2 separate regions of the Homo sapiens genome follow, and region 1 is linked to region 2. Evidence: fine-mapped expression QTL. A gene starts in region 2. The other region holds a variant in brackets. All regions are shown on one strand. Distances are from middle to middle. Region 1 holds the start of CLTB (clathrin light chain B). Region 2 holds the start of KIAA1191.

Region 1 (8,852 bases), 52 kb before region 2:
AGACCAGCCCAGTTAATATAGCGAGGCCCTGTCTCTAAATAAAAAAATTAAAAAGAAAAAAAAAAAAACACCTGGAAGGTCCCTTCACCCCAACTCCACTTCCACCCCCAACTTGGCGGCACATCTTTCCTTTCGCTCTTCCAGTCCATATTTCATAGTTGCCTTTCAAGTCCCACATTAGAAATAGCAGACAGCCCAAATCCCATGGTGTTTCTTTGCATCGTCTCCCTATACCCCGTGTTTAAATGTCACAGCGCCTCACACACAGTGCTTTGACAGGCCATTTGCCATCTGTTGGTCTCACCGGATTGTAATCTCCGCATGGCCATGGCTGGATTTTATAAAACGTTGCTGTCCTGGTGCTTGGCAAAGCGCAGGCAGGGAGGAGGCATTCAGAGCCTGTTCACAGAGGGCAGCGGGCAGCGTGGAGAGTGGTAGGCTGCCTGGGTAAACCAGGTCTGCCTTTCTCAGGCTGGTTCATACCTAAAGGACATTTAAGGGGCCTAGCTGGCCATCCAAACTCTGGTCGTATGAACTGAAGCCTCCTCAAGGGAGATACACAAAAAAATACACAAAACAACACGGCCTAGTGGGAAAGGACCTGGACTTGCATGAAAAGGTGCGGGGCAGCCTTTCCCAGCCTCAATTTTCCTCTTCTTACAGAGGCGGAGGCTCATAGAATGAGGTGCATGACATCCCAACCTAGGAGAAGAAACTTCTGCAGAATGAATCAGGAGCCAGGTCTGCGCTCCCGAGGCCAGAGGTGGCCTCCTGTCGCAGCTCTGTGCACGGTACGGCCACTCTGTGCCCTGCGTTTCGCCTCCAGGCCGGGCGGGAGCAGTGCCTAGCCCAGGTGTCCTCGACGCGAGCAGCTGGGCGCCGCTGCGGAGGGAGGGAAGCGCCGCGCCGGTCCCGGGCCCAGCGCTGCGCCCAGTCCTGAGGCGCCCTCCTGCGGCCGCTGCTCGGCGACCTCCCGGCCCTGCGGCCCCGCCCCCGCGGTGACGTCACCGCATTCCGGCTCCGCTCCTCCCGCCGCGGCGCCCGCACCGCAGTGACAGCCAGCCGGGCCCGGTGGCGGAGAGGAAGTGCGGTCCGCGCCAAGCCCGTCCCCGCCGACGCCGGCTCCCCCGCGGCTCGGGTGACAGCGTCGCGGCCGCCGGACGCAGCGCGGGGCAGGCGCGGGCAGAGCCGAGCGCAGCGGAGGCTCCGGCGGAGGCGCGGGGAAAATGGCTGATGACTTTGGCTTCTTCTCGTCGTCGGAGAGCGGTGCCCCGGAGGCGGCGGAGGAGGACCCGGCGGCCGCCTTCCTGGCCCAGCAGGAGAGCGAGATTGCAGGCATAGAGAACGACGAGGGCTTCGGGGCACCTGCCGGCAGCCATGCGGCCCCCGCGCAGCCGGGCCCCACGAGTGGGGGTGAGTCAGCGCGGGGCCTGGAGAGGGGCTCAGGGCGCGCACCCGGGGGACCCCGGCCGGGGCCCAGGGGCACAGGGAAGAGAGCCTGCTCTAGGCCACCCGGGGCAGGAGCTGGGAGACGTGGGGAAGAATCTTCTTGGAGATCTCCATGTAGGACTTCCGAGCTGGGGATGAGGCCTCGCCTGGGGCTGTGGATCTGGTGACTCCCGGGACAGGAATTCGGTCATGACATTTCATCCCCAGGCCAGCTTCCCCACTGCCCGGCTCTGGAATCCAACCCCACCTCAGTTTTGAGAGTCCCTCCTGAGCCTCCTAATAGCCTGGGTGTCCCAGGCTCCCAGCTAAGTGTGCAGGTGTGGGCAGAACACAGCCCTCCTGGCCCCTCAGGCTTAGCTCTCTCCTGCAGCTGGGAAAAAAGAGGATCCTGGGTGCTCCAGGAACTCACTAACCTTCCCCGGTGACCGCCTGGCATTCGGCAGTCGCTGGGCTAAGCGCCTTGGTTACATTTAATCACTTCATACACGTGATTGAACCCATTTCAGAGATGGTAAAACTGAGGCTCAAGGGAGTATGCTATTGAAATAACTAGTAAGTGGCAGATCAAGAATTTAAACCTGTTTCTTTTTCTTTTACATATATATTTTTTCTTTTCCTTTTTTTGAGATGGGGTCTCGCTATGTTGCCCAGACTGGTCTTGAGCTCCTGGGCTCAAGCAATCCTCCCACCTCTGCCTCCTAAAGTGTTGGGATTACAGGTGTGAGTCACCACACCTGGCCGTGAATTTAAACCTGTTCCTGTCGGACTTGAAGCCCTCTCCACCTGACCACACTGCCTACCAAGTGTCTGGCTCTGAGTTAGACACCGGAGTGTGGGCCACAAAGAGGCATCAGTCAGATGCGGTAGGGCCCTTCAGGGTTTTGTAGTTGTCGACTTAATGGTTTTCCAAAGGTGGTCCGGGGCTATTATGATTTACTGTGATTGGCTTCAGACCTCAGTGTTCAGGGCCTAGTCCCTGTGAAATCATCTTTATCAATGATGTTTCTGCCCTGGTTCTGGCTAGCAAGAATGATTTTGTAAAATATTTAGTAAAAAAGTAGATATCACCTTCATGGGTACATCCAAAACAGGTTTTACTTCCTGTTGATGTCATTTTGGAAAGGTTTATGGGCCTGTTGTAGTAAGTGCTAACATATATACATATAGACATATTTTGGTTAATGATGTTTACAAGGCTCTTCACAGTCATGTTTGTATCCATTCAACGTTTACTGAGCACCTACTGTGTGTCAGGACGCTGGGGATACAGAAATGAATAAGACAGTTCCTGTGGCTGAGGAGTTTGAAGCAACTCTGTATCTCCTTGATATGAGAAATGTAACCAGGCTTTTGTAACATGCAAGAAACCGGTGGCCCAGAGAATCTGAGTATCTTGCCCAGAGTCACACAGCCAGGAATGACCAATCTAGGACTTGATCCCACGCCTCCCAACTCTGGGCTCCATGCTCTTTCAAATGCTGTGGAGCCTGGGCAACATGGTGAAACCCCATCTCTACAAAACATACAAAAATTAGCCAGGCATGGTGGCATGTAGCTGTAGTTGTAGTTCCAGCTGCT[C/T]GGGAAGGCTGAGGCAGGAGCATAGCTTGAGCCCGGGAGGTGTAGGTAGGTCGCCGTGTGCTGTGATCACGTCTCTGTACTCCAGCCTGGGCAGCAGAGTGAGACCCTGTCTCAAAAAAAAAAAAAAAAAGATTCTATAGCAGTCACCTCCCTGGCAGGAGATAGGATGTGGGGTGAGAAGCATGGGGTCTTTTGCCACCTATCTGAGACAGCAATGGAGGGCTTCTGAAGTGGAAGCTTCCAGCACCTCAATACAGAATCTGCCGTGTCCCAGGGAATTCCTAAGAAATGCCTGCCCCAGTTAATGCACCAGTATTCACTGGACCACACCTCTGTGAGACCACCCTTTTCCTCAGTCTGGCTCACTGGGGCCTGTTGGGGTCGGGGTGCAGGGAAGAGGAGGGAGGCCTTGTGGGGAGGTCCTGCTGAGGGGAGCCATTGTGAGAACCTCAGGAGAGAAAAGATGGGATTCAGGCTGAGGGCAGCCAGATGCCTGAGGGAGCTGAGCAGGTTGTGGCCTCTCCCAGGATGGTGGGGCTCCAGGGACTTACAGTCTGGATGGCAAGTTCTGTCCTTGGCAGGGGTGGGGCACAAATTGGCCTCAGACCAGAGGTGACAGGGAGAGAAACAATGACACGCTCGCTTCTTCCAGGGAGGTGCCGGGGATACAGCCTTCTGAGGGTCTCCCAGGCGCATACCTGCTGACTCTGCAAAGGCTCAGCTGCCCTCCTTAGTTGGATCGGGGAGCAGGGAGGTGTTGAGGGATGGCGGCTCAGTGGATGGCCAGATGGGCTAGAATTGATCTGACCTTCTCAGCCTATGCAGTGCTGAACAGGTAATCTTCCCCTGACCAGGGATGTGTGCCAGGAGCCTGGATGGGGCAGAGAAAAAGCGCCCTGGCCTGCTGAGAGCTGGGCAAAAGCTGGCTTAGCAGCGGCCGCCAGTCAGTACCTCTGAGGCACCTTCTCTTAGATGTTGGGGTCCTCAGATTAGCAATCTCTGTGCTGACACTGGGCTCAGTTGCCCCTGGGGAAAGAGGTATCTGGTGTAGGCCTGTGCTGGAGCCACAGGGAGCCCCTCCTCTCTGGCTGGATCTGTGGCCCTGGGTGATCTGGATGATGGACACTTTGTTTCCATTCATCAGCCTTGGGTAGGTTTCCATTTTCACACCCAGTTTTCTGAGCACCAGGCCTGGCTCTGACTTGCCTGTCAGTTCTGGGCAAGCCCATTTCCCCCGCTGGGCCTCGTAAGCTCACAGGAATGTTCTGGACCCTCTCTGCCCTTGTTCCAAAATGGGTCAGGCAGCTGAGGGAAGCAAACCCTCAGGGGTTTATCCCTGGGACGTGTCTCTGTCTCAGTCCTGTTCTGCTGGCCTGTGAGTGTGGACTCCCGGTGGTAGATGGGCAGTGGGTGGGTGGAGAGCACTGTGGGAACAGGTACTTGGAATGCTGTGTAGGTGTGTGTGGACTCTTAAGGAGGCCGAAACTGCATGTCCAGAGGAACACTCTCGAGGCTGAGGCAGAGAGACTTTCTGAAGGTCAGGGTAGACCCCAGGCAGCTGTGTGTAGATGTGGGGTCTGAGACTGGGGTTGGTCAGGGCGGAGTAGGGTGGTGCAAATTCTCGAGAAGGCCAAATGTACAGACCGGCATCACAGGGAATAGACCCTGGTAACGTGAGGCCCTGCTAGAGGAGACACCCCAGCAGAAGAAGCCCCTTTGCAGAAGATGCTGCCACTGAAATGCTATTGGTCCCACTGTGATTTAGGGGCCAGGACACCCATGCAGGAGAAGCCTTATCTGAAGGAATGGGAGTGACAGCTGACAGAGTTGGTTGGAATCAATCACTGGTTGACTCTGAAAGCAAAGTCAATTATGATTTATGTCACCCGGGGATTATTTCCATGGGATTAAGTACCCTTCCCTTGAGTCCCCAGGCCAAACACACTGTCGCTGCTCACAGCCCTGTCTGGCTGGTGAAGGGCTATTTGTCCATCTGCCTATTAACCTCATGTGGCCTCCATGGCTTTTTGCTAGGAGGCACAGCAGTTTCTGAGAGCCTTGCAGATAACAGCAGGCCTCAAAACAACAATTCAACTTCCATTTAGCCAATAGTTACTGCTCACCCATTCCGTGCTGGAGCCCTGAGGAGCTGAATAGGACACGGAGCCTGGTAAGGGGGTACACACGGACCCTGGGGGTCATGAGTAATTGCACAAGAGGGTGCAGGATACTGTATGATATCCTGGGATACCCCGGAAGTGAGACCTTCCGTAAGTGCCTAGGGAAGTAAAGGAAGCAGAGGAGGGCTTCCCAGAGGAGGTGACTTATGAGCTGGACCTTGGAGAATAAATGGAGCCAAAAAAGCATTCTTTTTTTTTTTTTTTTTTTGAGATGAGTCTCACTCTGTCGCCCAGGCTGGAGTGCAGTGGCGGGATCTCGGCTCACTGCAAGCTCCGCCTCCCGGGTTCACACCATTCTCCTGCCTCAGCCTCCCGAGTGGCTGGGACTACAGGCGCCTGCCACCACGCCTGGCTAATTTTTTGTATTTTTAGTAGAGACGGGGTTTCACCGTGTTAGCCAGGATGGTCTCGATCTCCTGACTTCGTGATCTGCCCACCTCAGCCTCCCAAAGTGCTGGGATTACAGGCATAAGCCACCACGCCCGGCCCAAAAAAGCATTCTTTAGAGAGGGAAGCAGGAAGAAAGCATGGGGATGAGGGTGGTGTGTTTGGAGAAGGAGGAAACCAGAATTTAGGGTTTGTGGGATGGGCTGGTGGGAAGTGAGTCAGGAATGGGCAGGGCCAGATTGTAGAGATCCTCATGTTCCAGGGTTAGATGTACTTATCTGGCAAATATTTATTGAGTCCTTGTTATGTTCCAGGGACTGTTGTAGGTGGGCCTCATCATGGATGAAACCAAGTCCACACCCTCATGGAGGGTCTGTTTGTTGGGGGAAGACAGATAATAAACACATACACAAATAAACACAGCAGGCTGTAGTAAGTGCGCTTAATACTGCAGGAGGAATAGGAAGGGGTGCCCAAGGGGTGGATGGGGGTGTGGTCAGGGAGGCCTTTAATTAGGCAGCATTTGAGCAGAAGCTGAAGGGAGTGAGGGAGCAGCCTTCCAGGCAGAGGGAACAGCACCTGCAAAGTCCCCAAGGCAGGAGTAGGCGCTATAGGCCACTGTGGTCCATGGGAAGTGGATTTCTTTGGAGTTTGTTTTCATGACATTTTGAGTCAGAGGAGAGGCACAGGTAAGTGCATGTTTTACAGACTGTCAGCCCTGGCAATTGGTTTGAAAGAGGGATGGGAGAGGCTGGAGTCAAGGGGGCCTGTGAATGGGCAAAAGCCATGCAGTCGTTGTCTTTCTTTCATGCATGTATTTACTTGTTTATTCAACAAATAATTATTGAGCACCTGCAAAGTCACAGGTGCATGCAAGTCTCTGGGAAAGACACAGGAGAAGAGAAAGAGACACAGTTATGTCTTCCCAGGTGTTTGCCCCTAGCGGGCAAAGCAGTTGTGCAGGTGCAAGGTGGTGAGGTCCTGGGCTGGGGCTGAGCTGCGGGAGAGAGTGGAGGGCAACTGTGAATGTCAGTGTTGTAGCAGAAGCCCCAGGAATTTGTGACTAATCAAATGTCAAGGAAAGGGACAGGGAGGAGTCACTGCTGAGGGCAAACTTAATTCCTTCTGGGAGGGGCACAAAGAGAAAAAATATGCCAGGTGCTTCTGGTGGGAACTGCAACTCCTGCTCACCCAGGAGGAGCAGTTGCTCAAGGCGCCTCAGGGACAGGCAGAGACGCGTAGGCCCCTCTCTTCCTTATCCAGTGTAGCCCCTGCCCTGAGCTTACAGCAGCTCAGCCTACTCACCAGGCACAGGCTTCACAGGTAATCTGGCCATTCCCAGCCATGGCCAGGGGTCAGTGATTTCAGGTAGGTAAGGAGCTATTACTGGCTGGGTGATTTTGAGCATGGCCTCTCTGAGCCTCAGCTTGAGTATCTGTAAAATGGGTTGACAACAATTTCATTGCAGGGCTGTGGTGAACATAAAATGTACTAATGGCTGTGAGAGGCTTTATAAACAGTCAGGGGTGGGATTGAGCCTAAGTTATATATATATCCATTATGTCTGTTTGCATGTGGGTCGATATATACATGGGTATACACAGAGTTTGGGTTGAGGGGCTAATGTAGGACCATTTCCTGCTTGCTATAAGCTAAACAGTGAGTAATGCTATCTCCTTGTTCTCTTTCCAGCTGGTTCTGAGGACATGGGGACCACAGTCAATGGAGATGTGTTTCAGGTAAGCAAGGCTCTGTCTCAGCAGTGGTAAGGACCAACAGCCCTGGTCTCAGTAACCTAAAGCCTCATTGTTGTAGGCTTACAGCTCCAGGTTCTCCTGTTCATTATGTCTGATGCATTGGGGTGGAAACATAGAGAAAGGTTTTTGGAATTTTTTTTGTCATGTAGAGGGCAGGGAAGAAGAATAAGGACCACTAGAGATCGAGATTGATGGGCAGTAGCCTCAGGTTGCCCATGGTGATGTCTGGTTTTGGGAGGGAGAGGTCAAGTGGCCCACAGCAGCATGAGATGAAGGCAGCGCAAGGCCTTCCCTCACCACTGACGGGAGGCAGAACCCAGGCCATCTCCACACACAGGGCGGGCCCTTTGATCCAGAGATTCCACTTCCAGAATTTTCCCAAAGGAAATAATTGGACAAGGCCACCCAGATTCTTTGCAGGGTTATTTATAATGGCAGACAATTTGGAGACAACCTAAGTGTCCAGCATCAGGGAACTGAATAGATAGATTAGAAAACCAGGCTGTTGTTAAAAAGGGCAATCAGGGCCGGGTGCAGTGGCTGACGCCTGTAATCCCAGCACTTTGGGAGGCTGAGGTGGGTGGATCACGTGAGGTCAGAGTTCAAGACCAGCCTGGCCAACATAGTGAAACCCCGTCTTTACTAAAAATACAGAAAATTAGCCAGTCATTGTGGCAGGTGCCTGTAATTCCAGCTACTCGGGAGGCTAAGGCAGGAGAATCACTTGAACCCAGAAGGTGGAGGTTGCAGTGAGCTGAGATTGTGCCATTGCTCTCCAGCCTGGGAGATGAGAGTGAAACTCTGTCTGAAAAAAAAAAAAAAAAAAAAAAAAGGGCAATCAGATCTTCCTGTATTGACGTGAAAAGATGTCCACAATATATTAAGTGGAAAAAGCAGCTTGCAGAATAATATACACAGTATGGTCCTTTTTTTTTTTTTTTTTTTCAATTTTAAAAATATGTTTGGGCTGGGCGTGGTGGCTCATGCCTGTAACCCTAGCACTTTGGGAGGCCAAGGCAGGTGGATCATGAGGTTGGAAGATTGAGACCATCCTGGCTAACACGGTGAAACCGCACCTCTACTAAAAATACAAAATTAGCTGGGTGTGGTGGCACAAGCCTATAATCCTAACTACTTGGGAGGCTGAGGCAGGAGAATAGCTTGAATCCGGGAGTGGGAGGTTGCGGTGAGCCGAGATCACGCCACTGCACTCCAGCCTGGGCAACAAGAGCAAAACTCTATCTCAAAAAAATAAAACTAAAGGTTTGCACTACATATCTGAAAGGATGTGTACCAGCTGTTAACAATGGTTAGCCCCAAGGGTGGGGTGGGATGGGGATAAGAAAGGGGCATTCACTTTCACTGGGTTGTTTACAAATTCTTTAAGTGTTTTTATCCTGCAAAAAACGAGGAAAACCCAGCCGGGCACGGCGGCTTACGCCTGTAATCCCAGATTTTGGGAGGCCAAAGTGAGAAGATCATGTGAATCCAGGAGTTTGAG
Region 2 (8,878 bases):
CGAGCCCAGCACCGCCGCGGCGCCGCCCAGCGCCAGCACCAAGGGGCCCAGCGGCCGCGGCGCCATCGGGCCGGGCGAGGGACGCAGGTGCGGGTTGCACAGGCCGAGCCCACTCGCCCGCCGAAGATGGCCCCGCTGCGACTGCTGCGGCCGCGCCCACCCACCCAGACCCAGTCCCGCACTACAAGCCCCACAATGCACTGCCGCTGTCACGGCAGGCCGCCCGGGACCCGGCGGCGTGGGTGGTGGGGCGCTGGCCGGCGCGCGGGGACCTCCGGTCCCCCTGCCAGGTGCAGGGTGGAGGAAGGAGAGGCTGTGCCTGGGGAGGACGGGAGACGGCGGTGCTTGCTAGCATCCACCAGGGGTTAGCTCACGGCTTTTCTCCGTTACCCCTTACAATGATACCACGCAGAAGGGAAAACCGAGGCCCAGGAGTTAAGTAACCCGCCCAACGCCGCATCGTAGTGCTTTGGTGTAGCCTGCGTTCAAACCCAAGCGATCTGTCTCCCGGTCATCCCTCAAGACCTCGGGAGGAAATTGAAGCAAGACGCCCGATATCACACGGCAGTGGGGTGGCAGAGGCAGGAATAGAACCCAGGTCCGTGGCTCCCCGCCACCTCTAGCCTTCTTTCGCTGCCTCCCGGACCACAGGGGTTTTGCTGGGGTCCTGGTCAGGCTGAATTAAGCAGTGTCAGGACTTCAGAATGTTTAGGGCTGACTGCCTTGTCCTAGGTACCCCCAGTGACTGCCAAGGCTTCCACGTGTGTAGCACGAGGAGGAAGAACAGGAGAAACGACCTGAGTACAGCAGTCGGGTTCTTTTGGCTCTCCAGAGGGGTGACGCCATGTACGGCTGGCTGTAGGGTACATGGGTCGAGAGACCGCCTGTGGCTCTCAGGGCCCAGCAGGGCTACCTCTTCCCCTTTATATTGTCTCAACTCTTCACCTCCTTTTAGTTTGCGATTCCTCTGTACCCCTGGCTCTGGGTCCCAGCCCCTATTCCTTCTGATTTGTCCCCCTTTCCCTTTGACTACATATATATGCTCCTCTCCTCCCAGATAGTGATGTTTTAGCTACATCTTATTTCTTCCGGCATTGATTCTTTTGAAAAATTTATTTCTGGCCGGGTGTGGTGGCTCATGCCTGTAATCCCAGCACTTTGGGAGGCCGAGGCAGGCGGATCACCTGAGGTCAGGAGTTCGAGAATAGCCTGCCTAACATGGTGAAACCCCATCTCTACAAAAATTAGCCGGGCGTGGTGGCACGTGCCTGTAATCCCACCTACTCAGGAGGCTAAGGCAGGAGAATCGCTTGAACCCAGGAGGAGGAGGTTGCAGTGTGCTGAGATTGCGCCACTGCCCTCCAGCCTGGGTGACAGAGCAAGAATCCGTCTCAAAAAAAAAAAAAAAGAAAAAAAAATTAGCTCCTCCTCAAAAATACACCCACTTAGAGGGGAAAACCCACAAAATTGCTAAGATTAAAAGTTTGGCTGGTGCGGTGGCTCACGCCTGTGATCCCAGCACTTTGGGAGGCCGAGGCAGCCGGCCGGATCACGAGGTCAGGAGATCGAGACCATCCTGGCTAACACGGTGAAACCCCATCTCTACTGAAAATCCAAAAAATTAGCCGGGCGTGGAGCCGGGCGTGGTGGCAGGCGCCTGTAGTCCCAGCTACTTGGTAGACTGAGGCAGGAGAATCGCTTGAAACTGGGAGGCAGAGGTTACTGTGAGCCGAGATTGCGCCACTGCATTCCAGCCTGGGCAACAGAGCGAGACCTTGTCTCAAAAAAAAAAAAAAAAAAAATGTTTACAGTCTATTATTTGTGGAAAAGAAATAGGTGCTCTCACATAGGTGCTATGCACCAAGACCATGACAGCTTCAGACATTGGTACCACAAATATCAGGGATAAAGTTTTTTTTTTTTTTGAGATGGAGTCTCACTCTGTAGCCCAGGCTGGAGTGCAGTAGTGTGATCTCAGGCCTCCCAAAGTGCTGGGATTACAGGCATGAGCCACCACACCCAGCCAGAAATAAATTTTTCAAAAGAATCAATGCCGGAAGAAATAAGATGTAGCTAAAACATCACTATCTGGGAGGAGAGGAGCATATATATGTAGTCAAAGGGAAAGGGGGACAAATCAGAAGGAATAGGGGCTGGGACCCAGAGCCAGGGGTACAGAGGAATCGCGAACTAAAAGGAGGTGAAGAGTTGAGACAATATAAAGGGAAAGAGGTAGCCCTGCTGGGCCCTGAGAGCCACAGGCGGTCTCTCAACCCATGTACCCTACAGCCAGCCGTACATGGCGTCACCCCTCTGGAGAGCCAAAAGAACCCGACTGCTGTACTCAGGTCGTTTCTCCTGTTCTTCCTCCTCGTGCTACACACGTGGAAGCCTTGGCAGTCACTGGGGGTACCTAGGACAAGGCAGACTGCAGCCTCCGTCTCCCAGGTTCAAGAGATTCTCCTGCCTCAGTCTCCAGAATAGCTGGGATTACAGGCACCTGTCACTACGCCTGGCTGATTTTTGTATTTTAGTAGAGACGGGGTTTCGCCGTGTTGGCCAGGATGGTCTCGAACGCCTCAGCCTCTGAAAGTGTTGGGATTACAGGCCTGAACCACCGTGCCCAGCCAGAAAAAGTTGTTTTAATCAAATAGTAACTTCCAGGAAAGTCTTAAGTTTTCATGTATTTGTGGCTAAGAAATAAATGAGATGATCCCACCTTATGATCTACATAAGGGTGCAAAGTGCTATTTCTTCCTTTTCTGACTGAGAGGTGATATACATCCCTTCCTGTGGTGGATAAAGAGCAAGGTGCCAGCTTTGCTTCCACAGAGGTTAAAAAATATGGCATATTTTAAAAGCTCCAAATTAACAAAGGAACACCTTTAACACACACACGCACGCACACATATACACACAATTATACTGCAATGTAATTGTGCTGTTGATAAGCTAATTATAGAATTCATCAAAGACTTTAATTCTTAGTGCACTCAAGCACCCTGGTCTGGAAACAGCGCTTAAGTTTCAAGTCGCATGAGCAAGGCCTCTCAGTTCTGCCAGTACGGCTGGAAGCCTCAAATGCTGAAATCTAAATGTGACATTCACCCTGCACCACCAATCATAGCTCTCCTGAGATGAGTTTTGATGGCGAGCTTTGGACTGGGGTAGAAACGTGGATAGATTTTTGCAAATTCTGCTGTAACTTCGTTGCTTCGCCTTCTTTGTGAACCCTTCAGGGATAAGAGAAGTCTTCCTTCAGGATGTGACTGACACCTCAGCTGGCGCCTCTAAGCCTCACTCTCCTTTATGTAAAAGAGAAATGATATTAGGATCGCCTTCCCTAGGGGAGGCAGGTGAGGTCGGTTCCCTTTTTTGGTTCAGCTACTAGTACGAACCCTGCCTAACCCCGCTGTTTTGGGAGACAGTCCGTGCTCACTGCACCGCTTGCTAATCGAAGTGACTTCTCATCTCTCCCAGTCTCAGCTTCACCTCCGTGAAGTGGGAAAAACAGGATGACAAGTGCTCGCACTTGGCAGCCCTTTTTGAGCCTTGAGGGCTTGGGTTTGTGGGTGTCATTTTACTATGCTACCTCCGTCTTCCCTTAGCTTGTCACGGACCCAGGCACAGCACACGCGCTGAGGAAGTGGTGGTGAAGTGTGGCGTTTCCTCTCGGGGCTGGCGGATTCCACACTCGGAGCTGCGGCTCCACAACTCGCTGGGCGGCGAAGGGCATGGGGAGGGGGCGGGTCTCGCGATCGTGGACAACAACTCCCAGCATGCCCTGTGCTCCGCTGGGCCAAGTCTCGCGCGAGATCCCGCGGTCTCCGGAGGCTTTATCTGCAGTGCTGCCTGCCCGCTGGGTGGTACTGCTACCTAGTGGGTCTTGGGGACCTTCGAAATCGCCGCCGCTCTCACAATGGCTTGGGTCCAGACTGCGCCACAGCCTCTCGGGAGACGTGGGCCCTCGGAACCTTTTTAGTGCCGGACTCCGGGCCGCAGGCAGTCCCGCGGCAGCAGGATCACAGGTGAACAGATGGCGGGCCTGGGCCCTCCCTTGGGGCTGCGTTCTCTGGCGATCAGGAGGGGCGCTTCCGGCGAGGCCCGATCTCGGGGCCCCTCCAAGCCACTCCCCTCTCCCCGCACCTCTTAACCCTTCATCCCGGCTTCGAGCTCGGCTGGGTCGCCTCTTGCCTCCCTGGCTCCGCTCTCTGGGGTCTCCGTAATGGGGCTTCTCTCCGGGAATGCCCTGCAGCTCCCGTACGGGCTTCCCCTCCGCTTCGTGGGACCAGCCCAGCCCGAGCCCCCGCGGCTTGTCCTCAACCTCATCTCCCCACACCCCGCCTTCGGCTAGGGTCCTGGCCCTAATCTTAGCCTGGAGGGGTGGGTGAAGCAGCCGGCCTTTCGTATCCTGGCGGCACCGTCTTGTATATTGTGAAGGAGAGGCAGAGGGACGGTGAGCTGGGGGGTGGGGGCACAGGGAAAGGGAAAGGGGAAGGGGACGTGTCTGGGGCGGGAATGCTCCCTGGACTGGGAGGATGGCTGAATTCGGCCTTTGCGATGCTCGTTAGTGAAGAACTATCAATAACTTGTTTGCTCTGTCTGAGTCCTATCGGGATAGAGGGACGGTGTAGCAAGCTGAAAAACAAGAGTAACTTTCTCAGGCCCTCGTTTTAACTCCCCTGTAAACTGGGCATGAAACTACCTACCTTGCGCACGGACCACTTATCTGTGACCGTGGACAAATTTACTTAACTCCTCTGATTTTTAGTTTCCTTCTCTTTATTATTATTTTTAACATTTTTTTAATTTTTTTAATTTTTATTTTTGAGACCGAGTCTCACTCCGTCGCCCAGGCTGGAGTACAGTGGCTCGATCTCGGCTCACTGCAACCTCCGCCTCCCGGGTTCAAGCTATTCTCCTGCCTCAGCCTCCCGAGTAGCTGGGATTACAGGCGCCCGCCACCATGCCCGGCTAATTTTTGTATTTTTAGTAGAGATGGGGTTTCACCATGTTGGCCAGGCTAGTCTCGAACTCCTGACCTCAAGTGATCTGCCCGCCTGGGTCTCGCAAAATGCTGGGATTACAGGCGTGAGCCACCGCACCCGGCCAGTTTCCTTCTCTTTAAATTTGGGATAGCCTTTCTGTAAGAGATAGCTTAAAAAAAAAACTGGGGTCGGGCGCGGTGGCTCACGCTTGTAATCCTAGCACTTTGGGAGGCCGAGGTGGGCGGATCGCAAGGTCAGGAGATCAAGACCATCCTGGCTAGTGCGGTGAAACCCCATCTCTACTAAAAATACAAAAAATTAGCCAGGCGTGGTGGCAGACGCCTGTAGTCCCAGCTACTTGGGAGGCTAAGGCAGGAGAATGGCGTGAACCCGGGAGGTGGAGCTTGCAGTGAGCCAAGATCGCGCCACTGCACTCCAGCCTGGGCGACAGAGTGAGACTCCGTCTCAAAAAAAAAAAAAAAAAAAAATTGGGATTGGGATAAATAATATCTGCTTTGCCATCTTGCTGCAAGGATTAAAAGACAAGATAAACGCTGTAAATAGTTTATAGTGTTAGCTATAAAGAACAAATTTCCCTACTGTAGTATCTAGCCGCTTGCTGTGAGTTAAGAAAATGAAATGAGCAAGGTTGTTGTGGGGAATAAACAAGTGTTTGGCAGACTCTGACGGGCTGTTCCAATGCTGGCTGTTTGTTGTTATTAGAACCTCTGGATGGACTCTTCCTGGGAAGCTTTGCTACTTTGCAGCAGCTGGACCATGTTCCTCATTAACATCTGTCTGTCCGCTTAGTCATCACATCATTTCACTGTGGTAAGGTGACTTTTTCACCATGTATGGCATCTTAGCTCTGTCATCTCACAGGTGTTAAGATCAGCCACAGGTGTGGTGAGACGTTTGACTTTATCCTTCTTTTTTCATTGGCATGTTTGTCACCCACTGGCTCTTGCATGTGTGTTTCAACCTTGTAAACAAGCCGTTCAATTCTGTGTGCCTGCCAGAAGAACAGCATTGGTGCTGCTCACCATAAGAAAATGCCCTTTGTTATTTTATTAGGTGGCAGGGACTCAGCTCGGAATTCTGTATAGAAAAAGCACCTGGATCCCAGTCTTTCAATGGCTTCAAGACAACCAGAAGTGCCTGGTAAACTTAATTCTTTTTGGTAAAATCATGTTTTGCCCTTATTAATGTTTTAAGCTAGACAGAAACCATTTTATCGGAACTATATATTAATGGTTAATCTCTGCTACCAAGCGAGTATTTAGATTTACTAGATTGGCTTATTTTATTTTATTTTATTTTTTTGAGATGGAGTCTTGCTCTGTTGCCCAGGCTGGAGTGCAGCGGCACAATCTCGGCTCACTGCTACCTCCGCTTCCTGGGTTCAAGCCATTCTCCTGCCTCAGCCTCCCCAGTAGCTGGGATTACAGGTGCCCGCCACCACACCCAGCTAATTTTTGTATTTTTTGTAGAGACGGGGTTTCACCATATTGGCCAGGCTGGTCTGGAACTCCTGACCTTTTTTTTTTTTTTTTTTTTTGAGACAGAGTCTTGCTCTGTCGCCCAGGCTGGAGTGCAGTGGCGCGATCTCAGCTCACTGCAAGCTCCGCCTCCCGGGTTCACACCATTCTCCTGCCTCAGCCTCCCGAGTAGCTGGGACTACAGGCGCCCACCACCATGCCCAGCTAATTTTTTGTATTTTTAGTAGAGACGAGGTTTCACCGTGTTAGCCAGGATGGTCTCGATTTCTTGACCTTGTGATCCGCCCGCCTCGGCCTCCCAAGGTAATGGGATTACAGGCGTGAGCCACCGTGCCCGGCGGAACTCCTGACCTTGTGATCTGCCTGCCTCGGCCTCCCAAAGTGTTGGGATTACAGGTGTGAGCCACCACGCCCAGCCAGTTTTATTTTATTTTTGAGTCTCACTCTGCTGCCCAGGCTAGAATACAGTGGTGTGATCTCAGCTCACTGCAACCTCCGCCTCCTGGGCTCAAGTGATTCTCCTGCCTCAGCCTCGAGTAGCTGGGATTACAGCTGCCTGCCACCACGCCCGGCTAATTTTTGTATTTTTAATAGAGACAGGGTTTCTCCATGTTGGCCAGGCTGGTCTCAAACTCCTGACCTCAGGTGATCCTTCCACCTTGGCCTCCCAAAGTGCTGGGATTACAGGTGTGAGCCACCACGCCTAGCCTTAGATTGGCATCATTTAAATATTTTATTAGCCGCTCAGCCATAGTATGAAACTTTAACTTAAAGAGAATAGTCACTTCATTTAAGGGTATTATGACAAGTTTGTTACTTTCCTAGTTATCAAATAATAATTCAGAATAAGTTGTGCAGTTCTTGTAGTATGTACCAAAGTGATTAAACTCACCTTTTTGGGGGTGATGGGGAGGTGGGATGGAAGTCTTGGTAAAAAGGCACCAGCCTGCTTAAATGGCAGATTGAACTTAATCATGAAAATGCTCACAGCAACCCTTAATGAGTCAAGTTCTGGGTTATTGACACCATTGATGACTACTTGAATTGTTTTATGAGAAAGGAAAGTGATTTTTAATTACATCTGAATCGCTTAATTTCTGATTCTCGGTAAAGTATGATGATGAAGAAAGATGATGGTTCCTATCTCTCGGGGTTGTGAAGATTAAACAAAATATGTAAAAACAGGAGTTAAAAATCAGTGATAAATATGTATTTACTGCCCAGAATGCATTTGGTCTGTCTTTATATGAACATATTTTCCAGTAAATACTAGCTGACTTTATTTGTTTTAGGATGGCTGTTCAGTGGGAGTCTTTAAGATGTTTTTGAAATTGCTCCCCAAGTCTCCCGTATTCCCCAATATAGATCCATCTCTAGTCTTAACATCATCAGCTCCGTTTTAGTTTGTCTTTCATTGTTGCTGTGATTACCACAAACTCCGTGTAGCCGTCGCGAGCCATAGGATTGTGCCCATTCAGTGAATGCTTTGTAGTGTGTTGCATGCAGAGTGTGTGCACCGGCTCAGGTCTGTGTTCCAGTTCCCAGCACACTCTTTCAAGCTAGGTGATATTGGGCAAGTTGATTGTGAAAATGGAAAATTTGAAAATGGGAAGAATATCTGCTTCATGAGGATTAGATAAGATGAGGGATGTAATTGTCTAGCAAGGAGGAAGACTTAGTAATTATTATTTGCTTGTGTGTGTGTTTGAGATGTAATGCACATATCATAAAATTCACCCACTGAAAGTGAACAATGTCGTGATTTTTAGTATATTCACAGGGTTGTGCAAACAACACTACGATCAATTGCAGCACATTTTCTTTTCTTTTCTTTTTTTTTTTGAGATGGAATCTCGCTCTGTTGCCTAGGTTGGAATGCAGTGGCACGATCTTGGCTCTCTGCAACCTCCGCCTCCTGGGTTCAAGCAATTCTCCTGCCTCAGTCTCCCAAGTAGCTGGGACTACAGGCACGTACCACCACGCCTGGCTAATTTTTGTATTTTGAGTAGAGATGGGATTTCACCATGTTGGCTAGGCCGGAACGCCTGACCTCAGGTGATCCACCCACATCAGCCTCCCAAAGTGCTGGGATTACAGGTGTGAGCCACCACACCCATCCAAACTGCAGTACGTTTTCATAACCTCCAAAGGAAAACCTCGTACCATTAGCAGTCGTATCCTCACTCCCCCCACCCACTCCCTGGCAACCTCTAATCCTCTTTTTATTTCTATGGTTTTGTTAATTATTACTAATAGCAATAGTAATAATAATGATAGCTGCTTGGTCCCCTTGCCGTTTAAATGAAACCTTTTGTGGTTTTGGACTTATTGCCAGGCAGGTTGATGTCTTAGAGAGTGTTATTATATGATTTTAGCCACAGGAAAATGTTA

The links.
Region 1: its variant is fine-mapped to the expression of KIAA1191 in whole blood (TOPMed, PIP 0.97).

Annotation. Positions count from the first base shown.
Region 1 is chr5:176,408,738-176,417,589 of GRCh38, reverse strand. CLTB (clathrin light chain B) reads left to right here and starts at 1,051. Exons shown (of 6, transcript NM_007097.5): 1 at 1,051-1,413; 2 at 7,287-7,333. The coding sequence starts at 1,227. It also overlaps a transcript of ARL10 not described here. RefSeq lists silencers at 759-1,218, 1,259-1,358, 1,469-1,548. The variant C/T (reference allele first, on the strand shown) is at 3,028.
Region 2 is chr5:176,356,752-176,365,629 of GRCh38, reverse strand. It overlaps KIAA1191, which reads left to right and starts at 3,866. Exons shown (of 9, transcript NM_020444.5): 1 at 3,866-4,028; 2 at 5,712-5,819; 3 at 6,063-6,149. The coding sequence starts at 6,122. ARL10 (ARF like GTPase 10) reads right to left here and starts at 143. Exons shown (of 4, transcript NM_173664.6): 1 at 1-143. The coding sequence starts at 66. RefSeq lists a silencer at 1-278 and enhancers at 429-678, 3,791-4,110.